Homo sapiens: one gene and its partners. The protein of the gene in region 4 interacts with the protein of the main gene of each other region in a pairwise test. Each region holds a gene or a part of one and is shown on either strand. Other genes may lie near its edges.

Region 1 (3,029 bases), on a different chromosome or scaffold from region 4:
CTGTATCTGCCAAGCAACACTGTCAGCCCTGTAACTAGGAGAGTAACTTATTGGTAATTGGACTACAGCCGCAGCCTGATTTGTACTACAAAGGTAAAAATCATTATGCTTCTTCATGCCCAGTGACCACTTACTGAAAACAGATTGAGAAAGGTGTGAAGACCTGCTTTTCAGAATGTCAATAAAGTCCTTCCTCCCCACAAGTCTGATTTATCTTCGACTGCATTTTTCTTTATCCTAGTGCTGTTTCCCTGGAGGTGACTCTTAACACAGGTCACATGCCAGTGCACTCAAATAATTCCCCATGAGCTTCCAGATTGAGGCTAAAAATGTTCACTTTTAGGTAGATTCCATTATATATCCTTTCCTTTTTCTGTGTGTTTTTATCTGGGAATTCTGGGGACAAAAAAGATTAAGAACAGTTGAGGAATTCTGTACAAATAACAATGACTTATTTTCATCATGACTTAATTAAAAGGAGCTCAAGTGTACAATTGAGATTTTTGGCAAACTGTAAATTTTCATGTTTATTTCAAAATAGCTTTGGAAGATACAAGCAAGGGAAGACTTATGGCAAAGCAATGCAAATAAAAAATAACAAATAATAAAGGGGTTATGGCATTTTAGACTTGAACTACCCTTTCAGTACATTTGCATATACTAAAGTTCTGGAAAACAATTGAAAAAATTCTGTTAAGAGTGTCAAGAATAACCGCTCAGGTTGAGTGTAAAAATATTTTGTGGTCCTATCAGCATCAACCTGCCTTAATGCTTCTTTGGTTGTCTCTTCAGCTAGTTCTTATTTTACAGCACATGATATATGAAGTGATTTCACACCATGCCCAAGATACGGGCCACCCACCAGCTACATGGCATGATGACTCTGCAGGCCGAACGGCAGCCTTGATAATTATAAGGCCATGGGTAATAGCCCCCCAGGGGTTCACAGATCTTCTGGCAGTGGGTGTAGCTCCGCCTACATTCTATACAACAGATTCCTTCGTGATCCAGTCTAGGGTCGAATGTCATGCTTTCCCCTTCCTGCTGCTGTGAAATAAAAGATAATTATTTGTGATAACTGCATAGTGGGAAGGTCATAGCATGCATGTTATTTTTAAATAAGATTCTGAATTTTTCACTGCTACAGGAAGGTGTAATCTGTAAAGGGTTTGATCTTGTTTACCCTGTCATTCATAATTCATGTTCACTGCTGTCATTCATAATTCCTTTTGACACCAAGGAATCTACACCTACCTCACCTGTCACTGACTAGAAAGTTGTTTTGTCTTTTAAAACGATATCCTGAAGTTTCTCCATGCCTTTAATGAACTATGGTTACCACTTAGTAACTCAGCTTGTTTTAAGTAGGAAAGCAAGAAGGAAGCATTATGATAAAAAGTAGCATTTCTGCCACTGCTAATTCTAAGTCAGTGGAATGCTTGTGGCTTCTTGCAGTAATAGCTTCCAGGGCTCTAGAAGCACTTTTTGAAACTCATCAATCTAGGCTAAAGACAGATTTCAATTCCAGTTGCACTGGCTCTGAGAACACTGTCAAGTCATTTAGTTTTCTCCTGCTTTCATTTCAGTAACAGAATGGGGATGTTATCTCTATAGGGACAAAGGGGTCTCAGGAAAAGACTCCACAAAAACATGTAAAATTCAAGGCCTTAAACTTTGCCTTCTAGTTTTTTATGTAAATATATAAACACAAGATTACATTGGTGAAGTAAAAATCTCCATTTTCACTGCTGGTGAGATTACAGAACTGGAAGGAACTCCCATCCCTCCAACCCTGCCCGGTTTACATATTTGGTTTTCCTTTTTGGGGACTTGTAAGGGTGGAGATTCTGCATTATTTTTAATATGGTATTGAAGTGCATTCCCAAGAAACCCTTATCTTTAAATTCTTGATTCAATTTAAGATTCTTTCCTAAAGTTAGCTGATTCTGGTGTTTAAACAAAGTCTTTAATCTTAATTTGGGATGTCGGGGAGTGGGGGGAGTTATTAAAAATTTCAGCCACGCGCAGTGGCTCATGCCTGCAATCCCAGCACTTTGGGAGGCCAAGGTGGGTGGATCACCTGAGGTCAGGAGTTTGAGACCAGCCTGGCCAACATGGTGAAACCAACCCCATCTCTACTAAAAAATTAGCCAGGCGTGGTGGTGGACACCTGTAATTCCAGCTACTCAGGAGGCTGAGGCAGGAGAATCTCCTGAACCAGGAGGTGGAGGTTGCAGTGAGCTGAGATTGTGCCATTGCACTCCCGCCTGGGTAACAAGAGTGAAACTCTGTCTTGGAAAAAAAAAAAATTTCAAACATACTGGAGAGTAGAGAAAATTATAGATTGAACACCAATAGACTCATCTAGATTGGACAATTGCTAACCTATTGTCAAATTTGCTTTTCCCCTTCCTGCAACAGCAAAAGATAGGGAAATAATTTATATGTCCATCAAAGCAAAACTAGTATTTTAAAGTAAATTCTGAAGTGAATTTAAAGAGAATTGGAGGAATTGTGACATTTCTTCCATAAATACATTAGAATGTGCCCCCCAAAATAAGGATATTTTCCTAAATTTACAACCAGATTGCCATTATCACAAAATTAACAACATGATCTGATACAACCCATATTCAAGTTATGTCATCAAAATATTTATTATCTTACTCTTAAAGCATTCATTTTTTAATTCATCAGACTCACTCTGTTCTTTACCTTATTTCTTGAATAGGTTAATCTGGGACAGCAAAAAGACAACAACCTCATTTATTAATTATGAGGCAGGGAGAGTTAAAAGGCCTGTCAGTTGAGGCACTTCCTTATCTGAGGACCTGACAAAAGTTTTAGGATTGAAAGGTTGGGAGGAAATCTCATGTTGTTACCCTAAGATATGTTTTTTAAAGGAATAACTGAATGAGATCATGGAGATAAATGCTTTAACCATTTCTGCTTAAAGTCCAACATATAATAAAGGAAAAAATTGATATAATTGGAGTTTTTCAAGGGATAAAGGTCACTCAAGACTGGAT
Region 2 (3,500 bases), on a different chromosome or scaffold from region 4:
CTGTAATTCCAGCTACTTGGGAAGGCTGAGGCAGGAAAATCGTTGAACCCGGGAGGTGGAGGTTGTGGTGAGCCGAGATCGCACCATTGTACTCTAGCCTGGGCAACAAGAGCGAAACTCCGTCTCAAAAAAAAAAAAAAAAAATTAGCTGGGCATGGTGGCGGGTGCCTGTAATCCCAGCTACTTGGGAGGCTGAGGCAGGAGAATCCCTTGAACCCAGGAGGTGGAGGTTGCAGGGGGCCGAGATTGCGCCACTGCACTCAAGCCTGGATGACAGAGGGAGACTCTGTCTCAAAAACACAAACAAAAACAGGCCAGGCACAGTGGCTCACGCCTGTAATCCCAGAACTTTGGGAGGCAGAGGCGGGTGGATCACCTGAGGTCAGGGGTTTGAGACCAGCCTGGCCAATATGGTGAAACCCTGTCTCTACTCAAAATACAAAAATTACCCAGGTGTCGTGGCATGCACCTGTAGTCTCAGCTACTTGGGAGGCTGAGACAGGAGAATTGCTTGAACCCAGAAGGCAGAGTTTGCAGCGAGCTGAGATCATGCCACTGCACTCCAGCCTGGGCAACAGAGCAAGACTCCATCTCAAAAACAAAACAAAACAAAACAGGCTGTAAAATAATAGTTGTCAGCACATGGCCTCTAGGGAATGTTTTGGAGTGATTGACTTGTCTGAAACTGGATAATGGGAATGGTTGTACACCTGTATACATTTACTAGAAATTATCAAACTGTACACTTAAAACAGGTGCATTTTTTGGTACATAAAGTATACCTCAATAAAGCCATTAAAGAAAAACACCTCAAGTCCAACAGCTTAAAAGTAAAAGAAGAAAAAGAAAAAGAAAGGAAAAGAAAAACTCCAAGAATTACATTCCAAGAAATTAAATTTTTATTACAAGCGGCCACGCCTGTAATCCCAACACTTTGGGAGGCCCAGGTGGGCTGATCACTTGAGGTCAGGAGTTCGAGACCAGCCTGGCCAATATGGTAAAATCCCGTTTCTGCTAAAAATACAAAAACTAGCTGGGTGTGGTGGTGCATGCCTGTAGTCCCAGCTACTCGGGAGGCTGAGGTGGGAGGATCGCTTGAACCCAGGAGGCAGAGGTTGCAGTGAGCTGAGATCACACCACTGCACTCCAGCGTGGGTGACACTGGGTGACAGAGGGAGAGACTCCATCTCAAAAAAAAAAAAAAAATAAGACATTAACTTTTCAGCTTGGGTGTACTGACCCCATTTCTTTGGAGTCTGTGTTTCCTGGGTGGCCATTCTCATCTTCATGCCTGAATAAACCCTTATTTTGTTTTATTTTTTTTTGAAACGGCCTCTGTCACCAGGCCGTAGGGCAGTGGTGCGATCTTGGCTCACTGCAACCTCCGACTAACTGGTTCTAGCAATTCTCCTGCCTCAGCCTCCCAAGTAGCTGGGATTACAGACATGTGCCACCATGCCCAGCTAATTTTTGTATTTTTAGTAGAGACGGGGTTTCACCATGTTGGCCAGGATGATCTTGATCTCCTGACCTCGTGATCCGCCCACGTCAGCCTCCCAAAGTGCTGGGATTACAGGCGTGAGCCACCTCGCCCAGTCTGAATAAACCCTTTTAAACTGGATTCTGATGCTTCTGACAGCAGCCTTGGGGAATTTCAAAATCCCAATTTATTTGTGAATGGGAAAAATGGCGTCCTTTTCACAGGGTTGTGAAGATTAGATGAGATAATGCACTCAAAGGATTGAGCACAGTAATTGGGCCCAAAATAATCACTCCAAAGATGTGAGCTACTATATCTATCTATGCATATCTATGTATACATAAAGTAGCTATTACATATAATAGGTAAGAATTGTTCCATGAGTATTTGCATGTTATCTTCCTGCCTCTGTCGGAATATTCGGCTGTTTCATTTAATATAAGATGAGAGTGAGTATAGGCATGCGCCACTATGCCCGGCTAATTTTTGTATTTTCAGTAGAGATGGGCCAGGTGTGGTGGTGGCTCATGCCTGTAATCCCAGCACTTTGGGAGGCCGAGGCGGGTGGATCATGAGGTCAAGAGATCGAGACCATCCTGGCCAACATGGTGAAACCCCGTCTCCACTAAAAATACAAAAATTAGCTGGGTGTGGTGGTGCGTGCCTGTAGTCCCAGCTACTCGGGAGGCTGAGGCAGGAGAATCGCTTGGACCCAGGAGGTGGAGGTTGCAGTGAGCCGAGATCGCGCCACTGCACTCCAGCCTGGTGACACAGCGATACTCCATCTCAAAAAAAAAAAAAAAATAGTAGAGATGGGGTTTCACCATGTTGGCCAGGCTAGTCTCCTGACCTCAAGTGATACACCCACCTCGGCCTCCTAAAATGCTGGGATTACAGGTGTGAGCCACCACGCTTGGCCTGATGTTTCCTTTAATACTGTATCATCTCATTAAGAACAAAATGTGGTGGATACCAGGTGGAGTTTGTCTCCTTCGATCCAATGGGTCCAGCCTCTGTTCTTCTTTTCTCCCTTCTGGATACAGGTGAGCCTGTCATTGTCCCAGATAACCAAACTCTGCATGAAGAGAGGAGAAAATGTTAGCTTGTCCTGGCAGGATCCTCAAGTGTTACGAAGTAGAATGCCAAGTTACCCTTGCAAAATCAACAGCCTACTTACTGCTTTTTTTTTTTTTTGAGATGGAGTCCCACTCTGTCACCCAGGCTGGAGTGCAGTGGCACGATCTTGGCTTACTGCAACCAACCTCCACCTCCCGGGTTCAAGTGATTCTCCTGCCTCAGCCTCCTAAGTAGCTGGGATTACAGGCTCCTGCCAGCACGCCCCCCTACTTTTTGAATTTTTTTCTGTAGAGACAGGGTTTTGCCGTGTTGCCCAGGCTGGTCTCAAACTACTGACCTCAGGTGGTCCGCCTGCGTTGGCCTCCCAAAGTGTTAGGATTACAAGCGTAATCCACCGCACCTGGCATTTCTTTACATTTTACCTTGCATTTTCTGTTGTCCAGGCCTCTGTTATCTTCATCAAATTCTTCTCCAACTTTAAATTTCACAAAGTAGTTCCTTAGGCTGCTGTTCGTGTGGATGGTAAAAGAATCCCCATTCTGCTCAATCACTTTCTGTGGCTTCAGCAACTTGGCTATTTTACGAGTGGCAAAGTCAATACCTTAAAAATAATTTTTAAAAATATTTGAACATTCGCTTGAGATACAAAAGTGAAGAATTTGGTAGCTGTTCTCAAAATCACCACATGTAATTGTTAGCATTTCCTGTACGACTTCTATGTTGTTTGCTGCCAAAATCAGATCTACAAGGAATCGTCTTGGCAAACTGCCAACCACAGCCTGATTAAAAAGTTTGCAAATGCCAGGTGCAGTAATTCCAGCACTTTGGGACACAGAAGACAGGAGGATTGTTTGAGCTTAGGAGTTTGAGACCAGCCTGGGCAACATAGCAAGACCCTGTCTCTATAAAAAAATAAAAACTGTAGGCCAGGTGCAGTGGCTCA
Region 3 (3,500 bases), on a different chromosome or scaffold from region 4:
ACAACTTAAATAGTGTTGTTCATTCCTAGACAAGGGCTTTCCATTTTCTGTATGTTTTTTCTAAAAACTAGTAATGATTTCATGAATGTCTAGATGCCCAGTAGAAACAAGCAGCCACTCCACCTACCTGCTCATCACCATTGGTGGCATGCCCAGATTGTTTTGTGCCATCACTTTATTTATACCTTTAAGGGCCACCATTTTGGCTTTCATTATAGGATCTGTAATTGCATCAAAATCTAGAAAAGAAATATAAAGTTACTTATTTCATAGTAATTAGTTCAACGTACACTAAGAAGTAATTCAAATATTACAAGCTCTTAAATTTTATTATTTAATAATCATTACAGATTTCTGAGATGGCAACCTTATCCTGGGTTTAATCGCATCTCAGTAGTCCTTAACTGAATCATGCTTTAATACCTTAGTCCTGCAGGAATTAAAACAAAAAGTCAAGTTTAAGGGAGATTATAAGCAATAATCTAAAGCAATGCAATTAATTTCCTTTCATCCAAACTTTTGCAATGCTAATCAGAATGGCTTCTTTAGTAAATATAACATCACAAATAAGAATTTGCAATACTAAGGAATTCTACTAAATTAGTTATCACTCTTAAAAGAAAAATGCACCAATTTCTTAAGGGTATAACCTCTCAATAAGAAGCTACTACGAAAAAACCTATTTGCATCTAAATGAAAAAAAGGGAGCAAAATGATGAAATTGGGGATATATAAAATGGAATGTCAATTTTATTATTTAGAATAAGGCACACTGCTTAGACACGTGCCCTTTGATTGCTAATTCTTATTCTTAGAGGCACTGAGGCATTTTGACTGCATTGCTTTTGTTGTTTTTAGAATCAGTAAACCATTAGAAACAAGTTAAAGAGGTTTATATAGCAAAAAATCGCCAAGCATTTGTCATACACAAAAGGACAGTAAGAAGCTTTATTTCCATCATAATTTTCTTAAATTCATCCTTCCATGACTGAAAACATATGGCAACAATGGTTGGAATGTAGGAACTAAGAAGACAATTAGTTTCTATTAAACAATTCCATAAATAATAGAATTGAGGGAAGTTTGTAACTCAGTTTTGAATCTCTTAATTTACCTGGAAAGAATCTAAAACTCTTCGTTGTTTTCATTTTTTTTTTTTTGAGACAGAGTCTCACTCTGTCCCCCAGGCTGGAGTGCAATGGTGCGATCTCGCCTCACTGCAACTTCCGCCTCCTGGGTTCACACCATTCTCCTGCCTCTGTCTCCCGAATAACTGGGACTACAGGCGCACGCTGCTATGCCCAGCTAATTTTTTGTTATTTTTTTTTAATTATTATACTTTAAATTCTGGGATACTTGTGCAGAATATGCTGGTTACATAGGTATACATATGTCATGGTGGTTTGCTGCACCCATCAACCCGTCATCTACATTAGGTATTTCTCCTAATGCTATCCGTCCCCTAGCCCCCCACCCCCGACAGGTTCCAGTGTGTGATGTTCCCCTCCCTGTGTCCATGTGTTCTCACTGTTCAACTCCCACTTATGAGTGAGAACATGCAGTGTATGGTTTTCTGTTCCTGCATTAGTTTGCTGAGAATGATGGTTTCCAGCTTCATCCATGTCCTGTGTTGCCCAGGTTGGTCTGGAACTCCTGAGCTGAGGCAATCTGTCTGCCTCGGTCTCCCAAAGTGCTAGGATTACAGCCGTGAGCCACTGTGCCCAGCCAACTGCTTTCATTCTAAAGCTCAAGGAGGGCCAAGCAGGGTGGCTCACGCCTGTAATCCCAGCACTTTGGGAGGCCAAAGCAGGCGGATCACCTGAGGTCAGGAGTTTGAGACCAGCCTGGCCAACATGGTGAAACCCCGCACCTCTACTAAAAATACAAAAATTGGCCAGGCATGGTGGCACGTGTCTGTAGTCCCAGCTACTCGGGAGGCTGAGGCAGGAGAATCACTTGAACCCAGGAGGTGGAGGTTGCTGTGAGCCGAGATCGCGCCACTGCACTCCATCTTGGGTGACACAGTGAGACTCCGTCTCAAAACAAAACAAACAAACTCCTCAAGGAGGAATAGAAAAACTCAGTGCTTTATTCCAACTGTAATTCTAATAATAAAATCTTATAAGCATATCGCATGCCACTCTAATACCCATAGTAATATACGTTGAGACTCAAGAAAACTCCTACCAATATTAGGGAAGAACGGTTCTGATCGCTGACGAATCATGGCTTGCATCTGTCTTTGCTGCTGCTGTTCTTGCCTTTCTTGATCCAAAAGATCCTGTAGAAGTAGAGGCTGTTCTTCTAGAAGAAGGGGCCTCTCTCTATTCTGCTGTGCTAATGTTTGAGGAATCATTAGCTGTTGGGGTCCAGACATGCTACTGGTACCAGACTGACTTGTTTGAGGCCCAGTTTGAGTTGCAGGTTTTCCTGTCCCCAGACTGTGGTTAACTGTTGATTGACCTGGAATGAGCCCTGGGTTTACCTGCACACCCTGAGAAAAAACATGGTTTACCCTAGAGACTACTGTCACATTAGAATTCATGGCATTATCCAAAACACGGCCAGGCGGTGCTATGAAAGGAGGCAAACTTGACACATGATTGGATGGGGAGGCCGGCAGAGTTGGTGGTGGTGGAGACCCCGATGGCCTAATGTCTGAATTATCAGATTTCTCATTAGCAAGTAAACTTGAGAGAACTGGAGTTGATCCAGTTATGCCACAAGAGTTTATTACATCTTGAGCAGGTAGTTGAGTGGATGCCTGAATGACATTTGCACTGGGGCCAGCAGTTTCTCGATTGGTTCTTTTCTCAAATAGATCTGGATCACAAGGATGCAAAGAAGTCTTTTCTCCATCATTTAGGTCTGAGTGAGCAGAAGCCTGTGAGCAAGGAGTGTCAACATTATCTTTATTCTCATCATTTTTTTCAGTTTCACATTTGGATTCCACCTTAGAATTTGGAGACAGTACTTCCGTTTTTACCTCATTGGTAACAGTGGATTTTTTCTGTGGTGAATGTTTATCAGAGAGAACCAGAGTTTTGTTTTCTTGTTCCTTTTTTTTTGGTTCAACAGATACACACTGATTATCTAACTTATCATCAATTGGAAGGTCTAGTTCCTCATTAAACATGCTTTTCTTATCTCCCATGTCAAGTTCTGGATCTGTATATGCAATGATATCAAACTCTCCTGACCTTAAGAGGTCATCCAGGTTGGGATCATTAGTTTCCAAATTATCTAAAGTATCCAATTCAACTACCTTGCCATCCTCTGTATCTAAATTTAAGTTTTCAAGATCTTCATCATCTAAGTCTTTGACTTCAACCCCCTCAAGGTCTTTAACATCCAGTTCCTTCACAGAAGGGTCATCAGAATCAAGTTTTTCCTCTAGACCATCAGAAGGCTGGGTGGTTATCTGTAAATTATCAGACGTTGTTTCAGACGGTACAGATGTTGACAAAGGAGCTTCTGAAAATTCACCACCTAGTGGATGG
Region 4 (2,187 bases):
ATTCTTGTGCCTCAGTCTCCCGAGTAGCTGGGACTACAGGTGTGCACCACCACACCCGGCTAATTTTTGTATTTTTAGTAGAGATGGGGTTTCACCATGTTGGCCAGGCTGGTCTTGAACTCCTGACCTCAGGTGATCCTCCTGCCTCTGCCTCCCAAAGTGCTGGGATTACAGGCATAAGCCACCATGCCTGGCCTGCTTTTGTCTTATGATAGCAGAGTTGAATCTGTTGCAAGGGAGATAGCCAAAAACATAAAGACCCTTTATAGAAAAAGTTTGCCAACTTTTGACCAATACCATTAAATACTAGCTTACAGTGCTTGCCACTATTTCATGTATGTGGCCTTAGTCCTTGGTCTTTCTGACCTCTCCAAGACTGAACTGCACTAATATGGTAGCCACTGGCTACATGTTACTATGTAAATTTGAGTTAAATTTAAAAATCCAGTTCCTCAGTCACACTTGCCATATTCAATCTGCATATTAAATTGTGCAGATATAAATCATTTCCATTATTGCAGAAAGTTCTGTACATTGCTGAACTAGAAGCCCCCTGGGGGCAGGGACTATATCTGTCTTGTTCAATTACACAAACTAGGCTCTCAAAAATTTGCTGAATGAACAAAAGATTAAAAGCTGCTGAAAGACAGGGAGGTCTCAGAATCCTCATTTCTTAAAAGCTCCCAGGTGACGTCTGTCAATGCTGTGGGGCATGTGATCATACTCTGAGGAGCAAGGCCTTAGAGCAGCACACGGTGGGTACTTATCTATCATCTTAATCTGAAAGAGGAAATCTAGCCAACTAGTATGCAAGCAAGAAAACAGATAAGCAGGAGCTCCAGCAGTGATAAGAAGTCCTCATGTGTTAACAGTGAACATGGAACTAGCTGATCAAAAACCTCTGGTGGTTAGAATACTTTTAAAAGGAAATCCCAAACTTGGCCACACTTTCCAGTGAACATCACTTTTCTTTTTGAAAAGACTCTTGGTATGTGTACACAGATGTGTTTTGAGTAGCTACTAAACCAGCGCTAGAATGCATCTTACCTTCTGAACCTCAATAATTTCTTTTCCCAAATTAATAGCATAACATATCTGCAAAAGACAAGAAAAGTAGTGATTGGCAAAAGTAGAGAAGGATAAAATTTTAGAACAAATGTGATTTGGGAGTACAGTGAGGTCACTGTTCTCACTGTTCCCACTTGGGAACACAGGACCTGGCTGCAGGAGACTCATCACATAGGGCCCGGGGCATTTGCGTCCAACTGTCCTGACCTCTGTTGCCAATTTATGCCACACAAAAAATATTCCAGGTAAGTGAAACTCAGGTAATTCCAGTGTTAAAAGTTCTTAATAGGAATTTTTCTTCTCTCTCTTAAATGTATTTAGCCACGATATGTCCATATACACAGTGGCAAACAGATAATTTACTGAAAGGATTGGTTAATTGTGATAAATTCTAAGTAGCAGATAGAGTCAAAAGTTTTTCATACTAAACCAACAGCTTGTGTGTAACTTTTCTAATATCTTCCTTGGTTTTCTCTCTGAGACTAAATTATTCTCTATTGTAGCTTTTGCCTTAATTTTTTTTAAAGAACAAATTTGAGGGGAACTGCTTTCAACATTTCCTTATATCCCGACTAAATAATATGTCTTGCCATGAAATTTCTTCCTCATTCACCCTATTCTGGTTGATAGGTATTTTCCACAGAGAAATTTAAATCGAGTTTTCTTTCAGTGAGGCCTTCTTAGGAGGTATTATCTGAACTCCTGGATGGAGACATGCAGAATAATCAACTAAATATCCAAGGAAGTAATGCCAGAAAACTCTTTTAAAATGGACTTGTTTGGACTGGGATATTATGGGATCTTCACATGAAAAAGAGACCTTTTCGCCTTCTGAGTTGCTTTCAAAAATGTATGTACTCAGAGATTCTTCTCCAGTGGATTCAGGAACACGGATGACAAAACCAACCAGTCTCTTGTTTTCTTGATGAGCAGCAAATTGTGTGACACTGGTAAGTTCAAACTGGGGGGTGGAAAAAAAGGCAACAGATCATACAACTACTAGAATTAAAAACTGACAAGGCTACTCTCTGGAAAAGTCATGAGAAAAAGTATCCTATTAGTCCTATTAGTGGCAGATCTTTATTAATAAAGTGCCTAGGCTGTGTTTAAGGTAGATAC
Region 5 (2,255 bases), on a different chromosome or scaffold from region 4:
TATAGGTATAAATTAAGATGTCATTTCCCTAGAGAGGCTAAGAAATAAATACATTCAACAAATATTTGATGAATTAAAGGAATGAGATGAAGATATCTGGAGAAAACGACTCATTCGATCCACCATTCATTCTGCACACATTGTGTCAGGCAAGATGCTCAGTATCAGACACAGAATATAGGAAAGTACAAGTAACCAGCTGGGTGTGGTCACTCATGCCTATAATCCCAGCACTTTGGAAGGCCAAGGCTGGGGAGGACTGCTTGAGGCCAGGAGTTTGAGACCAGTCTGGACAACACAGCAAGACCCTCATTCTCTACAAAAAATATTTTTAAAAAAGTTTTTAAAAGAAAGTACAAGAAGGTACACATACCCTTTCACAAGTCACAGTGATATCTTACTAAAATGCCTGGAGCCACAAGAAGCCTGTTTTCCCTTCAAATGAAAAGTAGGTTAAAACTGGATTCACCAAATCTCACAGAAGAAAAAAGTACACACACTGAACTTTTTTAGTTTTTTATTTTGATTCCTATGGCTGGACAAGGTATCTACATTCTAGAACATCTTCTTAATCCCTAAACAAGTGGAAATCTACTACTTATATATAAAAAGACAAGTAGAAAAGGTCATGATTGTCTAACAGGGAACATGAATCCCCAAATAAATTATCTTACAAAAATATCATACTTGCTTTTCTACTTTTTTACTATACTGGTAAAAATGAAATGAAAAAAATAATTCACATTAAAATAAAATCTGTAGGGTGGCATAGAAGACAATTATTTTTACATATTAAAGTCCTTCAAATAAATATTTTACACACAAATTTAAGTAAGTTTTTAAAAAAAATAAGTATTTACGCTATATTTTTTTGCTCTGCTAAAAAGAGACCACTTATTAAACTGACATTAAACTGGACTGCAGCTCATTCTCTGCAAAGAGTAAAATGCATGTCACAGGCAGATTGGATACACACGTGCATATTACATACATATGAAATGGCTAACACTGCTGTGCATACTACTGCCATAACTAGTTTTACCCTGTAAAAATACTGTAGCCTATACTGTATCAAATTGCAATGAAAGAACAAAAGGTACTACTTGCCTATTTTAGACACTTGGTCAAGCATTTAAAAAAATACAAAAATTGGTCCACTGCAGTGGCTCACACCTGTAATCCTAGCACTTTGGAAGGCTGAGGTGGGTGGAACACCTGAGGTCAGGAGTTCAAGACCAGCCTGGCCAACATGGTGAAACCCTGTCTCTACTAAAAATACAAAAATTAGCCAGGTGTGGTGGCCGACGCCTGTAATCCCAGCTACTCAGGAGCCTGAGGCAGGAGGATCGCTTGAACGTGGGAGGCAGAGGTTGCAGTGAACTGAGATCACACCACTGCACTCCAGCCTGAGTGACAAGAGTGAGACTCCGTCTCAACAAAAAAAGAAAAAGTTATAATGTTTTGGGGACTTAAAGATTACTGAAGAGGGGATAAAAGTCAACACTGCTTACAAATACCTGAACATGGAGAGCACAGTCAACACATTCATGTGGACAGCACATGAACGGATGTATTAATACATTACACAGCTTCTTCTATCTGACCTATTCCTCTTGTTCTAAAGAGTTACATGGACTTGGATCCTTTAAGATGATTTTAAAAATAATATTACATTAAGTTTTCCTGGTCTAATAACCAACTTTGAGAAGTACAGTGGAAGGGTATAGAACTTCCTATATCTTCTATACTTTTAATGCCAATTTGATTTTTATTGTGATGTGATATTTAACAGTATGCTAAAAATAAAATTGACTGAATTGTATGATTTTGTCCACAACATTGAAGTCTCTTTTTGCTAAAATATTACAAAATGAATCCAGTAAACACTTTCCAATGGCCTAAGTTAGAGATGAATTCAACTTTTTTTTTAAAGCAATTACAACTACGCTGGGCTGAGGACAGCTACGTTAGACCCTGAAAACCAAAGCCAAGCACCCAAACATCTAAAACACTAACACTTTCCATCCAGGATAGAAAAATGAGCATCCAAAGTAAAGAGAACCACAAGACTGATCAAGTAACCAGTCAAAAACCACTTCTCTATTATTTGAACTTATAGTTACTCGAAGCTTGAAGTGTCCACCTTCATTATTACTGGTGGTTCCTAGAGTCACGGCTTCAATGTCAAACGTGACAGTGGACCCAGAAGTAACTGCGGGTAACTGATTTGTCATTTCTTTTCCATTGACAAAAAC
Region 6 (3,500 bases), on a different chromosome or scaffold from region 4:
TTAAGCAACTTGCCCAAGCTTGCCCGGGTGGAAGGGATCAAATCCAAAATGGCAGCCAATTCTGTCTGACTGTATCCAGCACACTTTCTGTCATCCCTAGGGCCAGGGCCAGCGCCAGGGCCAGGGCCAAAGTTTGGCTGCCCTGCGAATGTTCCCTGGGGCTCCACCAGTCCTGAAGTCAGCGTGGCAGGAGGCAGGTGCACTGTCTGTACCATCATGGGCCATAAAAAGGCTACATAGACAAAGCGCCCCTCCTCCCAGTCCCCACTGCTTGAGTGGCCAGAGGAAGGGCTGCCCACCTCCTTGTCGTGGATCCTGCCCCACCCAGTAGACTGTTCTTGCCCTGGCTGGTATCCCATTCTCCCTGGCTGCGAAAACCACATTCCACATTCATCCATTCTTCGAGTCCCTAAGTGAGTGCCAGGCACTGTGCAAATGAACGACCCACAGTCCCAGCCCTCTGGGGCCTCATGGGCATAGGGAGATGGGGGTGGAGTGACAGGGACAGACACGCAAACAGTTACAATGGGGTGCTGTGAACTGGCATGGCACAGATATGTACAGACTCCGTGGGGGCATGGGGGGAGCATCCAACAATATTCTGGGCAGGGAGGACTCCCAGAGGAGCGACACTTTGGCAGAGCATGGAAGGGCGATTAGGCGTGTGCTGAGGGCAGGCTGGCAGAGGGTGCTTCCGGGACCAGGGACAGCATATGCAAAAGCATGGTGGCCCGAGAGGGCCTTGAGTGAGCCGTGGAGGTTGCATGAGCTTCGTGGGTTGGGGGTGAGGCAAGGAGGTGGACTGGGGCCAGACTGGGGAGGAATTCGTATGCCCTGCTGGGGAATTTGGGCTTTGTTTAAAGGGCTGGGGACTTTTAAGATTTTTAAGCAGGGAGAGAGTGTGATCAGATTTGCTTATAAGAAGGTCACTGTGGCAGCGGTTGGGTGTGGGGGGTGGGGAACTGGACCCCTGTAGTCATGGTGAGGAATCCCAGAGGCCTGGGCCACATCGGTGGCTTTGGGAGGGAGATATGTTGGTGCCTTGGAGAGACATAAAGAAAGGGTAGTGAAGAATCCAGGGCAACACCCAGGTCCCCGGCTCTGGGTGCCCAGCAGACAGAGACAGGGAACTCTTGAGTGGGCAAGATGTGGCCCATAGGCCCTGGTGGCCTGCTGGCTGGGGCCAGCCTCTCAAACCCTCGGTCCTTCCTGCTGTCTGCTCAGCCACCCAGGGCCTCTGTGTTGAACTCACTTTTTGTCTGCGCCCCCTGGGCCTGGGTGGGAAACAGACAGGCTGGGAGAACGGCACCGTGGAGAAGGCAGGCTGAACGGGGACTGCGCGGGGATTCTGTTAAAACAAAAGGCACCGGCCGGTGAGGAGAAGCATTAATAGAGCCAAGGAGAAGCCGAAAGGCAGATGCAGGGGCAGGAGGCAGAGAACAGGCAGGCAGGGGGATGCAGCAAGGGGGTTAGGGCCACACGGAGGCGGGAGCGGAAAGGGCCAGGCTTCGGTGAGCAGCGCAGGGGGACAGTCTCCCTCCAGCTCTTCCCTCCCCTTCCACCCGCAGGGGAGAGAGTCAGGGAAGGAGGGAATGAGAGATGAGGACCAAAGGGTGAGGAGCCCAGATTTGCTGAGGGCCTACTGTGCACTTCGCTCATCTCAGGGAGCTCCCTTGAATGCCAAAAGGGTAACAGCAGCTCCCATCCAGCTGCCGGTGCCCTGTGGGAATGTGGGCCCAGCATACCCTAATCTTCCCATTTTTCACGTGGTGTTGGTATCTCCTGACCTTCTTTAGTTTTATTTATTTTATTTTATTATTCAAACAAAAAGATTTTAGAGATGGGGTCTTGCTATGTTGCTCAGGCAGAACTCTAATTCCTGGGCTCAAGCGATTCTCCTGCCTCAGCCTCTTGAGTAACCAGGATTGCAGACCTCCACCACCATACCTGGGTCTCCTGACCTTTTAGATGTTGGCAACGCATTCAAAGTTTTTAAAACACAGAGGTCACACAGACCCTGGTGTGGGCCCAGGGGCGCCATTGTGTGACCTCTGATATCTGTCTCCTCAATGAATCACACAACCACCCATGGGGGGCAGGCAATGACCATGCTCATTCTACAGATGACAAAACTGAGGCTGAGAGAGGCAAAGTTGCTTGTCTAAGATCCCACAGATGACGAATGGCAGAGCTGGGAATTTGAACTGGATTCAGTTTGGTTCTTGAGCCTGGGCTCTTTCTAGAACAATATGCCCTCCTTACCAGGATGGAAATTGACGGATGAAGAGAAAGGGGCAGCTGAGGAGTCTGGGAGACCAAGGCAGGTGTTCCAGACAGAGACAGTGACACAGAAGGAGGGGCAGAGTGACAGAGGAGAAGGGGCGGGCAGGTACTGGGACAGGGAAGCAGAGGTTGTCCCCAGAGTGACCTGGGTAGGAGATTGGCTTGGGTCCCCCCAGCTGGGCCTAAGCACAGCTACGCTGGGCCCTGCATCCCAGCCCCTGGGACCGGTGCCAGGTGGACAGTCTGACCTGGAAGCTGATGTAGGACAGCTGCACAGAGCCATTGACGGAGATGGTGTCCACACGGTGGAAGGGCACGCGGTGGAAGTACTGCACGAAGAGGCTCCCGTTCACCATCACCTGCCAGAGGAGAGCACGTATTTCGGGGGAGGTGCCCCAGGCCGGGATGGGGACCACCCCTGAGCTCCTGGTCCCTCCTTCTAAAAAATGAAGACCTGAGTCTGGTCTTCAGTGTGGGGCCAGTTACAGGGACGTGTGTGTGGCCCGAAGTGCATCAACCGGAGTCTCTACTGGGCTCCAGTCGGGCTTTCCATTCTTCTGGTTGTTTCCTTCCCCTTTCTTCTCACTCCTCGATTTCCAGCCTGGTTAGGAGGCCATATTGTTCCAGAAAGAGCCCATGCTCAGGAACCAAACTGAATTTCCTGGGGTTTCATTTATTTATTATTTTTCCTTCAACTTTTTTTTTTTTTTTTTGAGATAGAGTGTCACTCTGTCAGCCAGGCTGCAGTGCAGTGGTTCAAGCGATTCTCCTGCCTCAGCCTCCCGAGTAGCTGGGATTACAGGCATCCACCACCACACCAAGCTAATGTTTGTATTTTTAGTAGAGACGGGATTTCACCATGTTGGCCAGGCAGGTCTTGAACTCCTGACCTCAAGCCATCTGTCCTCCTCACCCTCCCAAAGTGCTTGGATTATAAGGGTGAGCCGCCGTGCCCAGCCCCTTCAACTTTTATTTTAAGTTCCAGGGTATGAGTATAGGATCTGCAGGTTTGTTAACTAGGTAAATGTGTGCCACAGTGTTTTGCTGCACAGATCAACCCTTCACCTTGGTATCAAGCCCAGCATCCATTAGCTAATCTTCCTGATGCTCTCCGTCCCCGACCAGGCCCCAGTGTGTGTTGTTTCCCCGCTTGTGTCCATGTGTTCTCATCGTTCAGCTCCTACTTATAAGTGAGAACTTGCGGTGTTTGGTTTTCT
Region 7 (2,750 bases), on a different chromosome or scaffold from region 4:
CGCCACTACTTCTGACTTGCAAGATTTTCAATCATTGAGAACAATGCTCTTACTGCCCTTGAAAAGAAGGGCATTTCCAACTAAACTTTTGGTTGGTGGGAAGGAAGCAGGTTACTTTTTTGTTGTGAGACATTTGTCTTGTCTTACACTATGGAAGGTCCAGGCACAGAATTCTACACACCCAAGAACTATATGAACTGGAAGGAGCCTCAGGCACTTGAAACTCACCTCGCTGTCCCTTTTCTTTGCCACTTATTTATTTATTTATTTTACAAATGAAATTTAAAAAACCCAAGGCCAAAGTGGGAAATGACTTGCTCAAGGTCATCCATATTCCTAACCCTCCTTTTACTGGGGCATAGGGCAATATTTTCCAATATGCCTGAAAAGCTTAGGTCTCTAATCACAGATAACTTACAGCTTTTCACAAGCAAGAGTTTTGGCCAAATTATGCCAGTTAAGGAATGTAAATTTTATAAATGATGAAATACTGCAACCAATTAGTGCAAACAAACATTTATTGTGAAATATTCATCCTACCCTTTATTAGGTATTACATCATCAAAGCACTTTGTGGCAATGAAAATAGCTTTTTTTACCCCTCTAATTCACCCAATATTCCATTAAAGCTGCAAAAAATGTGCAATCTGCTTGAAAAATAGGTTGCTCTTATTTACTCATTTGTGAAAAGTCAAAAATTAAAAAAGAAAATGATACTAGCATACAGGGCCTCTAGAGCCAATTCACCTTTCCATTTCCCAACTACTCCCCAAAATAATTAACAAAGATAATTTGTTTTAAATGCCTTTTTATAAAACCAATGCACCTTTCCCCATATTATAATCATACAAATTTTAAAAAGCCGTTATTTACTTTCTTGGAAAAAAGGTGGCCAGCCGTTGTTTTTTGATTGGGAGCATGTGTATTTCCTGGGAGTTCACTTTCTTTAACTTTATGCTCCGGTTTTTGATGGGTTTCCTAAGGGGCTCTGCATTTCCCATGGACTCTTCCCCTTGGCTGTTGATGTCATAGCCCTGAAGCACGGAGTCTTCTCTTTTGAAGGAGAAGTTTTTGGTGGACACCCCTGAGAGGCCTTTGATCTTGCCACAGAATATGGTAGGCACAGCATCTTCGACAGAGACAATGACCTTGGCCGCCTGGGACTCGCCCACCATCTCAATGTTATTTTCAGCCTTGACTTCGCCGCTGGGGTGGTTGGGCTGGCTGAGCATCTCGGTAGCAGCATCACTGCTGCTGATGTGACTATCCATCATGGCTGGGGCCTCATGGGACGTGGCAGGGGCAAAAGAAATTTCCATGCCACTGGGAAGTTTCTCCATCACTGTGTGACCTGAGCTGTCCACTGATGCACCACTGTCATACAGTGTCTCAGGGGGAGGCTCGGATTTCCGGTGGGCTGCCACTGACAGGTCTAGGGCTGCATCTTCCTGGAAGATTGGGGGACTGACTTCACCAGCCTTGAGCCAGGGCACTGACTTCATGGAGAGATCCAGGGCCTCGTTCTCACTTCCCATCTTAATGACCGTGTGGCGGCTGAGCTGGAAGTACTCCTTAGGCTGGAGGATGTCAAAGGGCTTCAGTTCATCTTTTTCCAGAGGGGTCTGGGTGCCTTTAAAGGGGTGCAGGCCGAAGGAAGATGGTGGCTTGGGGAAACTGGAGCTGAACTTGGATTCAGAACTCTGAGGCATCGGGATGGGGATGGGAATAGGGACTGGCACAGGCAAGGGGACGATTACAGGATACGGCACCAAGAGGGTGGCTGGTGGGACCAGGGGGGACAAGGGGGAGCTAAAAGGCTGTGGGGGCACAGGGGCATAGCCAGGAGGAGGCTGACAGGGTGGGGGCCCGAGAGTGCCCTGGGAGGGAAACAAATTCTGGAGCACAGCTTCAAATGGCAAAGTGGGCTCCTGCGGCTGGCTGGGGATCCTCAGGTCCAGGAGCTGGGGCTGGGCCTCGGGGTCCTCCGCTCCCTGGAAGAGGTTGTTGTGGATGGTACTGGAGGAGCATGGGGCCTCCTGCGGCAGGACCAGAGGGGAGTTGAGGTGCTGAAAGACGTGCTGCTCCAGCACCACGGGCAGTTGCACGGGGCCCTGGGTGGTCATGACGTAGGTGGCATTGCCATTCGGATTGAGCTCTGGTGCGGAGCTTCCCTCCACCTGCATGTGAATGGGCATCACCACTGGGCTCTCCCCGAGGCACAGGGGCTGCAACACAGTGGCCGCCACCTTCAGAGCCATGCCACTCTGAGACTCGGCAGGGGGGTTCAGAATGGATGGGGCTGGCACGGTCACCAGGGCCTTCTTTACCAGGTCAGTGGAGTTGATGTTCCAGGCCTCGGTGGTGATCAGCTGAGCCATGCCATTCTCCAGTCTGTTATTAGCCAAGGCAGGAGGGGAGTCAGTCATGTCCATGGAGAGGTTCTGGGACTGCAGGTCGTCCATCACTCAGCTCTGATGCCACTTGGCCTGCAACACAGAACATACAATATGAATCTTCCTTAAAAGACTATTTATAATTGCCTTAAGAGCTCTCTCACATCTTTAGAAAGTTTCCACGTTTTAGTTAACCAGGGAGCATAACCCATCTCTCTATGTATATGTTCAGGTTATAGATATCTCCTAATATATACAAACACAACCACATGATCCTGTGTGCGTGGAGAACCCCAATTTAACAGATGATTAAGCTATAAATGCAGATGATGTAATCAGTAAATAGCCAAGTGAGGT

Evidence for each region.
Region 1: the proteins of APPL2 (region 4) and CNMD interact in a two-hybrid assay, tested with the Homo sapiens proteins (one large-scale study listed by BioGRID and IntAct).
Region 2: the proteins of APPL2 (region 4) and RBP7 interact in a two-hybrid assay, tested with the Homo sapiens proteins (one large-scale study listed by BioGRID and IntAct).
Region 3: the proteins of APPL2 (region 4) and KMT2C interact in a two-hybrid assay, tested with the Homo sapiens proteins (one large-scale study listed by BioGRID and IntAct).
Region 5: the proteins of APPL2 (region 4) and CRLF3 interact in a two-hybrid assay, tested with the Homo sapiens proteins (one large-scale study listed by BioGRID and IntAct).
Region 6: the proteins of APPL2 (region 4) and LGALS9C interact in a two-hybrid assay, tested with the Homo sapiens proteins (one large-scale study listed by BioGRID).
Region 7: the proteins of APPL2 (region 4) and RAI2 interact in a two-hybrid assay, tested with the Homo sapiens proteins (one large-scale study listed by BioGRID and IntAct).

What each region holds. Positions count from the first base shown.
Region 1 is NC_000013.11:52,702,764-52,705,792, forward strand, and holds the end of CNMD (leukocyte cell-derived chemotaxin 1 isoform 1 precursor), read right to left. Parts: intron 1,048-3,029; coding exon 832-1,047; 3' UTR 501-831; downstream 1-500. UniProt on the Homo sapiens protein: Bifunctional growth regulator that stimulates the growth of cultured chondrocytes in the presence of basic fibroblast growth factor (FGF) but inhibits the growth of cultured vascular endothelial cells.
Region 2 is NC_000001.11:10,007,228-10,010,727, reverse strand, and holds part of RBP7 (retinoid-binding protein 7), read right to left. Parts: intron 3,159-3,500; coding exon 2,980-3,158; intron 2,556-2,979; coding exon 2,454-2,555; intron 1-2,453. UniProt on the Homo sapiens protein: Intracellular transport of retinol.
Region 3 is NC_000007.14:152,174,004-152,177,503, forward strand, and holds part of KMT2C (histone-lysine N-methyltransferase 2C), read right to left. Parts: coding exon 2,188-3,500; intron 240-2,187; coding exon 128-239; intron 1-127. UniProt on the Homo sapiens protein: Histone methyltransferase that catalyzes methyl group transfer from S-adenosyl-L-methionine to the epsilon-amino group of 'Lys-4' of histone H3 (H3K4).
Region 4 is NC_000012.12:105,174,988-105,177,174, forward strand, and holds part of APPL2 (DCC-interacting protein 13-beta), read right to left. Parts: intron 2,030-2,187; coding exon 1,889-2,029; intron 1,096-1,888; coding exon 1,048-1,095; intron 1-1,047. UniProt on the Homo sapiens protein: Multifunctional adapter protein that binds to various membrane receptors, nuclear factors and signaling proteins to regulate many processes, such as cell proliferation, immune response, endosomal trafficking and cell metabolism.
Region 5 is NC_000017.11:30,782,184-30,784,438, forward strand, and holds the end of CRLF3 (cytokine receptor-like factor 3), read right to left. Parts: coding exon 2,004-2,255; 3' UTR 501-2,003; downstream 1-500. UniProt on the Homo sapiens protein: May play a role in the negative regulation of cell cycle progression.
Region 6 is NC_000017.11:18,486,789-18,490,288, reverse strand, and holds part of LGALS9C (galectin-9C), read right to left. Parts: intron 3,390-3,500; exon of another isoform or gene 3,373-3,389; coding exon of another isoform or gene 3,349-3,372; intron 2,643-3,348; coding exon 2,532-2,642; intron 1,349-2,531; coding exon 1,253-1,348; intron 1-1,252. UniProt on the Homo sapiens protein: Binds galactosides.
Region 7 is NC_000023.11:17,799,549-17,802,298, forward strand, and holds the end of RAI2 (retinoic acid-induced protein 2), read right to left. Parts: intron 2,487-2,750; 5' UTR 2,463-2,486; coding exon 870-2,462; 3' UTR 501-869; downstream 1-500.